Regions from separate parts of the Homo sapiens genome. Here region 1 is linked to region 2. The links come from fine-mapping of genetic effects on gene expression. A gene starts in region 2. The other region holds a variant in brackets. All regions are shown on one strand. Distances are from middle to middle.

Evidence for each region.
Region 1: its variant is fine-mapped to the expression of TNFRSF18 in whole blood (TOPMed, PIP above 0.99).

The regions. Positions count from the first base shown.
Region 1 is chr1:1,234,868-1,237,760 of GRCh38, forward strand. B3GALT6 (beta-1,3-galactosyltransferase 6) reads left to right here. Exons shown (of 1, transcript NM_080605.4): 1 at 1-174. Among named protein-coding and RNA genes, the nearest start is that of B3GALT6, 4.1 kb to the left of the region's middle. The variant A/G (reference allele first, on the strand shown) is at 1,436.
Region 2 is chr1:1,205,081-1,207,973 of GRCh38, forward strand. TNFRSF18 (TNF receptor superfamily member 18) reads right to left here and starts at 1,512. Exons shown (of 5, transcript NM_004195.3): 1 at 1,305-1,512; 2 at 290-412. The coding sequence starts at 1,491. RefSeq lists a silencer at 95-295.

The DNA.
Region 1 (2,893 bases), 30 kb after region 2:
GCGTCGCCCAGTTCTTTGTGGCTCTGAAGAATTGGCCGCTGTGGAAAAGAGCAAATGTCCGAGACCCCCAACAGGAAGAGTCTAAAAATCCAGTTTGCAACCACTTCTGACCTACAAAAAAATGGAAATTTAGTGTTTTTCAGCCTAAGACATTAAATTTCATATCAGAACAAAGCCTGCCCCAGGCTGACCCTCCCCAGCCGTACCGTGGTGAACGGGTTCAGAGGATACGTGGGCTGAAGGCTGGGCCTCGGGAGGGCTGGGGGCTTCCAGAGCCGGGGCAGCTGCAGCTCTCTCTGGTCTCACCTGGAACTTGCCCTGTAGATCCTCCCTGCCCTGCGGCTCCAATCGACCGTGCACGGGCCGTGGCATCCGTCCCCCAGGCGTCCTTCCCTGGTCTTAGCTTGTACAGCTCCCCACCCACCCAGGTACTCGGTTCCCGGAGACCAGGGCCAAACCAGGAGGCCCTCGGGAGATGGGGGGTCACCGAATTCATTTCCATGTGGGAACTTGGGATACAAAACAGCCAACTCTTCCTCAGCCACACGGATGTTTCTCCTCTAGTGGCCCCGAGAACCTACCATGGAGGGGACAGTGTCAGGGCTGGACGGGCACGGCGCAGCCACACGCACACAGCCCCCAGGAGGCACAGGGCCGGCAGGGAATGCAGGTCAAGCCAAGAGGATGGGCTCTGGTCCCTTCAGGATCCCCCAGGAGGAGAGCACCCCCTTCTGCCCTCTTCCTGGGGACTATGGTCCTGCCTCTCTGCCCCCTGAGGCTGGCATGCAGGCACCTGACGTTGGCTCCAGCTCTCTGGGCCAGCCCTGGGTACCCGCCGGGCCTGTGGCCTGGTTGGTCACCCCCAAGATGCAAAGTGCTACCTGCATCCGGAGGCACCCCCGCCCCTGAGGCCTCCAGGTTCCCACCTGCCCACCTGTGTCTGGCTGGGATCCTGGCTGTCAAGGCTCCTGTTACGGGACTGAACTGTGCCCCCTAAAAGATATTCCAAGCCCTAACCCAGCAGCTACAAACTGACCTTGTCTGGAAGTCGGGTCTCTGCAGGTGGAATTGCGTTAAGGCAAGGTCCTGAGGTGGCCTTACTCCCACGGAACTGGTGTCCTTACCAGAAAAGACCTGGGAAAAAGCCACTGTGTGGCTAGAGACTGACACCCAGGCGATGCCTCTGCAGGCCAAGGATTGAGGACCCTCCACCCCCACCCCACCAGGCAAGGAAGGGCTCTACCCAGAGTCAGGAGCGTGGCCTCCAGGGCTGCGAGGGAAGACGCCCCGTCCAGCAGCCCCAGGATGCCAGCCCAGTTCCCTGTGCCCGGCGCTCTTCGGTGCAGACGCAGGCAGGGGCTCCTGCAACCTTGTGGCATCACAGACGCCCAGCACTGACTGGGCCCAGATCTCCTCCCCGCAGGGCTCAGCACAC[A/G]CCCTGTTCCCGGCAGGCCTCCATCAGTCCAGCCTGCAGCAGGGCTGCCCCCGCGGCCTGGGTCACCCCAGACTCTTCCACCCTCTCCCTGGCTGACTGTCCCAGCTCAGAGTCCTCAGGTCTAAGGGGGTCACGGCCCTCCTGTGGCCCCACCGGCCCCAGGCTCCCCAGCTGTGGCACTGTGAGACCAGCTGACGTTGCAGGAATGGAAGCCCCAGCGGCCCAGACGGCTTGGGGAGTCCTCGGGAGCAGGTGGCCAGAGACAGGTGCGTGCCAGGCCCTCCGCACCCAGAGCGGGGCCGGGAGGAGAGAGGAGGCCCCTTGTTCGCGCAAGGCCCTGCTTCCTGGGCCCACAGCAGCCTGTCAGAAGTTTCCAGCTCCTTGGACTGGCTGTGTGGGGCCTGCTCCCTGGTTTCAGGGGCCTGGGAAGGGCTTGGCGCTTTTTCCTGGTTTCCTACTCTGAGGTGAGCTGGCGTCTCCCTCTCCCACTGTGGGCTGAGGGGAAAGACCTCTGTGTCCATCCCACAGGCCTGGCCAATCTCTGGGGTCCTCAAAGAGGAGGCTTTTGAGGGGGCACAGCCCAAACCCCTGGGCCTCCCCTTGAGGTCTCCTCCCAGCCCCCACCCAGAGGACCTTCCCACAGCCTTGGGAGCTGAAACCCAGGCCACCCCATCAAGTTGGCCTCTGTGGGTGTACACACTCCTTTCCCTCAGGGCCAGGGTGGGTCCCCACCCCCAGCACTCACAGCCCCTCCTTCTCTGGCCTCCCTGCCCTCCGCACCCTCCCTGCTAGATGCTGGTGCCGCTAGCCCTGCCCTGATGGCCACACTGCACCACGCTGGCCAGGTCAGAACCACCCGAGGAGAAGAACCAAGATCTGGCCCCACCCTGTCCTCCTCGGAAGGTCTCTCTGGGGCCCACCCCCTCCTCCCTCCCCAAGGATCTGAGCCTCCCTCACCGAGGTTCCCAGTGGAGGTAGACAGTGGATGAGTGATCCCAGGAGAGCTGGCTGCAGCCAAGGGGCTGAAGGGAGGTGGAGGCGGGAGGGGCAGGAAGGAGGATCTGGAAGGCCCCAGGCGCTCCCCACCCATCCAGCCTCGGCCTCTGTCCTGGTCGCGTTGCCCAGCGAGGCCTCTCCTTGGGCTGGGGCTCGGGTACTCTGCCCTGGTCGGGGCCACAGATGCCGCAAAGTCCCCTCAACTCAGCTAGCCAGGGTGCAAGACCGCGCCCACAGCTGAGAAGCCAGGGGTTACGAGTGTGGCCCTGCCAGGACCTCCTCAGCTGCATCCTCCAGAGTAAACACAGGTGGCCGCAGATCTTCCAGGGCCGGCCGGGCAGGCAGGACAGGAGCCCAGGAGGGCCGCAGTCCAGCTCCCCTCCCCGCTGACCCAGGGCCGGACCCAGCCCGGTGACTGGAGCAGAAGGAAACCCAAGCCCCAGGCCCTCCCTCCGGTGGCAT
Region 2 (2,893 bases):
CCCGGGCCTGAGAGCCAGACAGCTCCTGGAACCCGCCCCCACCTCCCCGCAGGGTTCTCACAGCCCTCGTGCTGGATGGAGAAGCCCAGGCTGAGAAAGCAGGGACAGGACACCCCCAGAGCTTCATGGCCTGTGGTGCCTGAGCATGGCCTGGCCTGCCCGGCCTCACAGGACTCCGGACCCCACACACCACATGTCCTCGCCGGACACCTGTGCCCACGAGCTCTGCCTCGGGCCCTAGTGGAACCCCTGGCCTGTGTGGACTCCCAGAGGCACCTCCAGGACTTACCCTGGGACTGTACCCCCTGGCCTGGGGGACAAGGGTGGTGCCGGCAGGTCGTGCAGCAAGGGTCTCCGCAGTGGAATTCAGGCTGGACACACATGCAGTCCCACTCGGAACAGCACTCCTCGCCTGGGCAGGAGACAGGCCAGCCCCCCAGCAGCTGGGCTGAGGCCCCCTCCTCCCCAGGCCTCCCCTCGGCCCTCCAGGGGAGTGAGGTTGTCCGTTCTCCACCCACAGTTGGCTCCAGGGAGCAGAGGGCTCCTGGCTGGGAGTCTGGACCCTGGGTTTATCCAGCTGTCTCTTTCTCCTGGGGCCATGTGGCCTGGCTACTCCCCCTTTGCGCCCCACAGCTGCCCCTGCCCAGGTGCTAACTCCATATGCAACCAGGAGCTGCCCCTGCAGGACCCAGGGGTGGCCCCCAACAGTGCACAGTCCCCTGGAGGCCCGTCGACACCTCAGAGGCCGCCTGCCTGGTGTCTGGGCGCTGCTGTCCCCACCACCAGCCACACTGGGCCTCCGGACAGAGCCTCCCTTCCCAACCCACAGGCCCTGGAGGAAGAAGCTCTGGGGTGACTTCCCTGCCAGCTTCCTCTCCAGACCAGCCGTGTCAGCTGAACCCTCATCCCCAGGTGCAGGTCAGAGGCAGGCAGCAGGCCAGACGGTGGTGCAGGGGGGCCCTCAACTGGGCAGGAGGGGGCTGGGCGATGGCCAAGGGCTCACGACCCGCCCAGCAGGACCTGGAACAGCCGTCCTCCACCTCCAGACCCCAGACCCCTCTTGAGGGCGCTCCCACCTGGCTCACCCCTGCTCCCGGCCGGGGCCACTGGCTGGAGCTGGCACACCTCCGCCTCCCTCTGGGATCCTGCCTCCCTCCGGAAGGCTCCCGCTGCTGGCGGCTCTGTGCCCACCCTCCTTAGACCTCAGCAACGCCGGTCTGAGCACGGGAAGGGGGGCGCCCACCCATCCCGGCTTCCGCGGGACGCCTTGGCCGGTCCGCGTTAAGTAAACGCGGTTTACTTACCCGGGTAATCGCGGCAGCAGCGCGTCGTGTGAACCCGGCAGCAGCGCGCGTCCGTTCCCGTCCCAAGCAGGAGGCGCCCAGGGCCGCACCCGGGACCCCCGGTGGGGCGCTGACCCAGGCTGAGCGCGCACAGCAGCGCCAGGCCGCACAGGGCCCGAAACGCGCCCATCGCCCCGTGCTGTGCCATGCTCGGGTTTCAAGAGCCCACAGCCAGTTGGACACGCCCCGTCCCCGTCCTCACCCGCCCTGCCCGGAGGTGGCTGGGACCGTTCATGACCTGAGAATCCCGACCCAGGTGAAGTGCGTGTGAGGAGGGGGTGTAGACACTGCGGACACAGCCCGGTCCCCCGCAGGTCGCCGGCAGGGGCGGGGAAACCAGGCTGGCGGGGATCAGAAAGGTTTTCTATGCAAAGTCTGCGGCCACATTGGTGTCCCCAGTGCAGGGGGCGGCGTTTATAGCACCTTGTCCCATGGGGGCCCCTTGGAGGGCGGGGGTCAGCCAATCACTCCTCCATCCCACTGCCTCCGGGTGGTATCTGCGAGTCCCCGAGAGGTCTCCACAAATTCTGGCCACCCCCAGAGAGCCTCAACCATGGAGCCCCGTGCTGGGGAACCCCACAGAATGGGGACAGGGACCCCTCGGCTCAGCACACCCCACCTGGCTGGCTTCAGGTGTGAAACTCACCATGGGCTGCAGGCCTGTGGGCTCCCCTCCCCCTTGCTTGCAGCTCTCCAGGACCCCCCTCAGGCCAACCTGGGAAGTTCCCCGGGGCTTGGGAGGGGCACCAGGAGGAGCTGGTGGGGAGACGAGAGGGTGCTGGCGCCTCCTCGGGACAGTGTCAGCCGCCCCCGCGGGCACCCAGGGCCCGGTCTCTCAGAGCCACCTTCATCCGTCACACCAGACAGATCCAGGTCCCGGAGGGAGTTGAGGAGGAGCCCCTCGCAGAGCTCTTGGGAGACTGTCCTATGTCTTTCTGAGCCTCAGTTTCCCCTGTGGGCACCGAGGGGTTCTGGGACCCTGCCTCCACCAGGAAGCCTCCCTGGATTGCCCAGCCCTGCTTCTGCGCCGTCCAGCACAGGTGGAGACCCCCATGAATGCTGGGGGTGGGGGCTCTCGGGAACGTGAGCGTGGATGTGGTTCAACACCCTTTTGAGACCTGCAGCCACCGCCTCACCCCGTAAGGCGGTTCCTCCTTTTCCAAGGTAAATGACAGGAATTAGCTGTTTGTGACACCCCGGAGTTCTCAAATCCAAGATGTAGGAGCCTGCCTTGGAGAGGCAGCCCTCAGACACTGCAGAGAAGGAAGGGGTCTCTGCAGCTCCAGGCCGCCCCGACGCTCGGAAGGAAAGGGGTGGGGCCAGCTGGGCCTGGGGGCCTTTGAGAGGCCTGGAGATCTTCAGCCCCGAGGCTGGGAGGGGGTCTGGGCCCCTGGATAGAAAGAGGCGCCATCAGTGGCTCACGCCCGTAATCCCAGCATTTTGGGAGGCCGAGGTGGGCCTCGGATCACCTGAGGTCAGGGGTTCGAGACCAGCCTGACCCACATGGAGAAAGCCCGTCTCTACTAAAAATACAAAAAAAATTAGCCAGG